2 separate regions of the Homo sapiens genome follow, and region 1 is linked to region 2. The links come from fine-mapping of genetic effects on gene expression. Tissue or cell type: sun-exposed skin. Region 2 holds a variant in brackets; the other region holds the start of a gene. All regions are shown on one strand. Distances are between the middles of the regions.

Region 1 (2,500 bases), 24 kb before region 2:
TATAAAGCCCCTAGAGCAGGGTCTGACTCAGGGCACATGTTCCCCAAATGGCCTTTCTCATCCTATGTAACTTCCAGCCATGGCTCCAATTCTCCTCACCCCCCAGTGACCATGAGAGCTGGGAACGAAGGAAGAGGGGACTGGACGATGGTCTGTGCCAGGCGGCAGTGGGAAGCAATCAGGCACTTGCTCCCGTGGGCATCCACCCTCTCAGGAGGCTGCAGGTCTCTTGCCTGCTTCTCGGACTGCTTGGCCCACCAGGTGTGTGAGGGACTTGAGGGTGGCAGAGCAGGCCCCAGGATGCAGCCCTATATCCCTGTCCTCCCCTCACAGCCCAAAGCCATCCCTGGATGAGACCCCTAGTCCTGGGGGATGGAACTGGAGACAGGGAAGGTCAGGGGAGGGAAAAGCAGGGAATGATAGTCCCCCTCACTGGATAACAGCTCCCATGACCGGCCACCTGGCTGTGTGCCCGGCCGTCTGCCAGGAGTTCCACCTGGGCCCTTTCACGCCACCCTAGGATATCGATACTGGTATTCTTGTTTTACAGACATGAAGTTTTAGACTCAGAGAGCTTAAGAAACTTGCCTAAGGCCACACAGCAGGACACTTGTCTTCCTGGTCCCTGAGCCTGCCCTCCTGACCACTGCAATCTAAGGCCTCCTTAAAATCCCGTGGTCCCTAAATGCCAAGTTGTTGGGGTGGGGAAAGGGAGAGAGTTTTGGTTTTGGTGTTTTTTTGGTTTTTCACCTAAAAGTGCCTCTGAGTTTGCCGCTGAGCCCATCTCTGAGCCTCTGCCCATGAACTAGTGTGTATCCATCGGAGTGTGTCACCACGCGAAGCACTCGGTGTTGGGGTCATGCGGGCAGGAGCGAGCATGCGGTGGATGTGCGGCCCGCGCGTGTGTCCACAGAGGGAATCCCTGGGTGGGTCTGGTCCTGGTGTCGCCGGGACGTCCCGATGGTGGCTTCGCGCACTGGGGCCCTGAGCCCTGAGTCCAAGTGCGCAGCGCGGGGCGCGCCCCCGAAGGTGCCCGCCGGGGGAGTGTGGGCGTGCGCACGTGCGGCGGCGGTGGCCGCGGGCCGGGTGGCCGCGGTGCGGGCTCCGTGTCCCCCACCCCCCCGCCTCGGTGCTGATTGGCTCGGCGCCGTGACGGGCCGGCCCCCGCCCGGGGCGGCGGCGGCGGCGGCGGGCGCGGGTGCCCGCGTGTGCGCTGGGAGCCGCGTGTGCGCCGGGGTGTGCGCCCGGCCGGGTGTGCGGAGAGCGAGGGAGCGCGCTCCCTCCCGACGCGCGGGCCGCAGCGGCCAAGCCCGAGGGTGCGTGGCGCCCCCGCCCGCCCGGCCCGGCCCGGCCATGGCCCCCGCCCGGGGCCGCCTGCCCCCTGCGCTCTGGGTCGTCACGGCCGCGGCGGCGGCGGCCACCTGCGTGTCCGCGGCGCGCGGCGAAGGTGAGCGGCGGCGGCGGGGCGGGGCAGGGGCGGCCGAGGGGCGCGGGGCGCGGCGCGCGCTGCCTGCGGCTCAACTTCCTTTGCATGGACCCTGAGCTCCAAGGCGGCCGGGATCCCTCGGCCCGGGGGGCGGGGTGGCACCGCGGAAGAGACCCGGGATTAAGGGACAGAGCGGTGGAGATGGGAACCCGCGAGCTTGAGGAAGACGGACAGGTACCGGGGACTGGGGGACAGTGGGAAAGGACAGGAGACAGGACTGAGGGATGTGCAGCTGGGGACAGAATACTGAGGGTCGGACGCCGGGGACAAGGGGACAGGACTGGACAGAAGACAAGAGAAGAGGTAAGGAGGAGAGGGTACAGTGAGGTAGGGCAAGGAACAGGGTTGGGGACAGAGGACAGGGGGGTAGGCACTGGGGTTGGAGGGACAGGAGAATGGGGGAGGAGGTTCAGAGGGCAGAAGGCAAAGGGGGTGGGGACAGCATTGAGAGATAGGAGCCAGGCGCTGAGAAACGGGACCCCGGAGAGCAGGACTGGCTTTGAGGGGAGGCAGGAAGGAGGGGTGCGGAATGAGAGTCTGGGAGAGGGGTCAGGGCCCGAGGGCCACAGTCTGGCGACGGGCTGGGGAGAAGAAGGGAGGGCAGGGGAGTTCCAGCTGGAGGAGAGGCAGCTTCGTGGGCAGCGGGAGCGGCTTGGGGAGGAGAGGGCTGGGGGATGGGGAGGCCACAGAGAGATTGAGGCAGGCAGGCCCCGGAGAGCAAAGTCTTGTCAGAGAAGGCTGGGATGGCAGGGTCACTCTGGGGCCCTGTGTGGGAGGAAGGATTGGGGTGGGGAGGTGCACTGAGTCGTTGGGACCAAAAAGGTCTGGGAAATGACTTCTGGTGGTGGGGGCACAAGAAGAGCTGAGAGGGAGCACCTAAGCCTGCCACCCACACACCCGTTAGCTCCCTGGAGACCCCAGCTCCATCCAGCTCAGGAGGTTTCCCTGGGTCCCACTCCCCACACCCCAACCCCTGCCCTGACCCTCCTCTGTTCCCACAGCTCTGCCCCAAGG
Region 2 (2,500 bases):
AAGGCCAGCCAGGGTGGCCCTGCTGGCTCATGTGCAGCCGCCTTCTCCTCCACAGCCTGTGAGCTGGGCTTCTACAAGTCAGCCCCTGGGGACCAGCTGTGTGCCCGCTGCCCTCCCCACAGCCACTCCGCAGCTCCAGCCGCCCAAGCCTGCCACTGTGACCTCAGCTACTACCGTGCAGCCCTGGACCCGCCGTCCTCAGCCTGCACCCGTGAGTACCACTCCGAGATGCCAGTACCCTTGAGCCCAAGACTGGGCCGGGCCCCTGTGTTTGGTCCTCCAGGCCTCAGAGAGCCAGTTCTCTGCTGGTGGGGCAGGGGCGGGTGGCTCTCTTGAGCCAGAGGCCAGTCTGAGGTGGGGGGGGTGACTCTGATCCCTCCACGGTGGCCTAGACCTCTCTGGGCTCCCAGCCTCTGTCCTGTGTCACCTACACTGGAGGGCAGAATGGAGCTGGCCTCACTTCTTTCCCCACATCGGGCAGTTTTTGTCATCTTCTGATCTAGCAGCGATGCCGATGTCCTGGGGGCCAGGTGGGCAAGCCAGGGTGCTCGCCTGTGCGGAGAGGGTGAGGGTTAGGGCAGCAACCCTTCCATCACCATCATCTTTGATGAACTTGTTGGAACTGCTGAATGCTGAGAGCTGCCTTACATGTGTATGGTGTGTGTGCATATGTGTGTGTACCCATGGAGTTCGAATATCTGATTCTGTGTATGCCCTGGGGCCCTGCAGTGATTGTGTGTTAGCGTGTGTCTGTGTGAGCAGCTGCTCTTACAGACGACGCCTGTATCGTGTTTGGATGCCTGCATGTAAATGTGTGACGTGTAGTTGAGCTCACATATATAAAGGATTCGTCACATATATTAAGGATTCTTAGGAGGAGGTGTGTGTGTGTGTACATCTGGGTACCTGAAGGGGACTCAGAAGTCCTTGTAAAGCTTGAATGAGGGTGTCTTGTGAGCTCAGCACGTGTGTGTGTGCGTGTGCACACCTGGCCCTGCAAGGGTGCATGTGCCTGGAGAGGGTGTGGCTGCATGTGCACGTGCCCTGTGGACCTGAAGGTATGGG[G/A]GGATTCTGCACCCATGCCTGCAGGGCTGCGTGACTGTCCTACCTTCTGCTGATGCAGCGCCTGGATTCTCTCCTCTCATGTGTCCTAACGGGCCACTCATACTCCCATTCCAGGCCTGGGGAGGGACCACAGCCTGCTCAGCCCAGCCCAGTTGCCAACCCTGGGCTCTTGTGGTAGGGCAAGAGGCACTTCAGACTGTTCTGATTTTGCTCTGAATCTGCCCAAGCATCAGCCCCCATCTCCCGCTCCCATACATCCATCACCACCCAGCCCCAGCCTCCCTGCACATGGCAGGCGAGGGCCCAGGTGCATTCATGCCCACATGCTTGTGCACATACACACAGACACACACACCCACCCTCCCTCCACTGCCCTGCCCAGATCTGTGCATTTTCCACATGTGGGACCTGTTGGGGCAGAAAAGGTGGCCAGGTGACAGCGTGGGCACCTCAGGCAAGTCGAGTCTGGCCCCAGGTCATGGACACTTGCGTGAAGCTGGCTGGACTCTGGTTTCTTTCCAAACCCACAGTTCAGTGCCTTTAGGTTCTGGAAAGCTTAAGATCGTAAAGGCTGAGCTTTTAGTATTCTATACCCTTCCGATGTTAAAAATTCTCTTCTCTTCAAATTGTAAGATTCTGATTCCAAGATCTTACAATTCTATTTTCTGAAGATTTAAGATTCTCTGCCTGGAATTCTGAGAACTGGAATTCTGAGGCCAGGGGTCCCCACAGACCCCCATGCCCTCTTGGCTCAAACCCCCACCCCAGCCCCTCAGACCCCCAGCCCCACGTCCTGGTCTCCTCAACCAAGGGGTCACCCCTCTCTCTCCAAAGTCTTTGTGCTGCCCAGACAGAGGCTCCCATGCCCGGGGTTGGGGAGCGGCTGCTTGGTGCACACAGCCATGGGGATACACGGTGGGCTTCTGGGGGCCTCCACTTAATTCCACAGTGCGTGCTCAGTGGCATTTTGTATCGGATCCGGCACAGAAGGGTCAAGGAATAGATGTGGCTGCAAATACCTGGGTCACTTACACACAGGGTGGCTGCTGTGGGCACCCCCGGGACTGTGCGGTCTCTCTCCCACTCTGGGTGAGCAGTGGGATGTCCAGACCCTTGGATCATGGTGGTCCTGATGGGTGGGGGGGATGGGGTCCCAGGGTTCTGTGCCCAGACTCTGACATTGTGGTCCCGGTCTGATGGCAGAGACACAAACTCTGCCCTTGGGGAGGCTACAGAGGATGGAGTAGATGTGGACCTTATCCTTAAGGAGCCCTAAATATGATGGGGAGCCCTTCCCTTGGGGAGCCCCAGGTCTGATGATAGGAAGACAGGACAGCCCAAATAAATAACCACTGCCCCATCTGTCATCCTCTGCCCTCAGGGCCACCCTCGGCACCAGTGAACCTGATCTCCAGTGTGAATGGGACATCAGTGA

Alleles and levels. Positions count from the first base shown, and alleles are read on the strand shown. Sizes are in standard deviations (SD) of each study's normalised expression.
In carriers of allele A in region 2, the expression in sun-exposed skin of the gene that starts at base 1,207 in region 1 tends to be higher than with G alone (small effect, 0.38 SD a copy in GTEx).

Evidence for each region. PIP is the estimated chance that this variant, and not a neighbour inherited with it, causes the effect. A credible set is the group of variants that fine-mapping cannot tell apart.
Region 1: EPHA8 starts here. The variant in region 2 is the best candidate, but not a certain one, in a credible set for the expression of EPHA8 in sun-exposed skin (GTEx, PIP 0.83).

Annotation. Positions count from the first base shown.
Region 1 is chr1:22,562,283-22,564,782 of GRCh38, forward strand. EPHA8 (EPH receptor A8) reads left to right here and starts at 1,207. Exons shown (of 17, transcript NM_020526.5): 1 at 1,207-1,447. The coding sequence starts at 1,354. RefSeq lists an enhancer at 1,745-2,245.
Region 2 is chr1:22,586,425-22,588,924 of GRCh38, forward strand. It overlaps EPHA8 (EPH receptor A8), which reads left to right. Exons shown (of 17, transcript NM_020526.5): 4 at 56-211; 5 at 2,447-2,500. Among named protein-coding and RNA genes, the nearest start is that of EPHA8, 24 kb to the left of the region's middle. The variant G/A (reference allele first, on the strand shown) is at 1,066.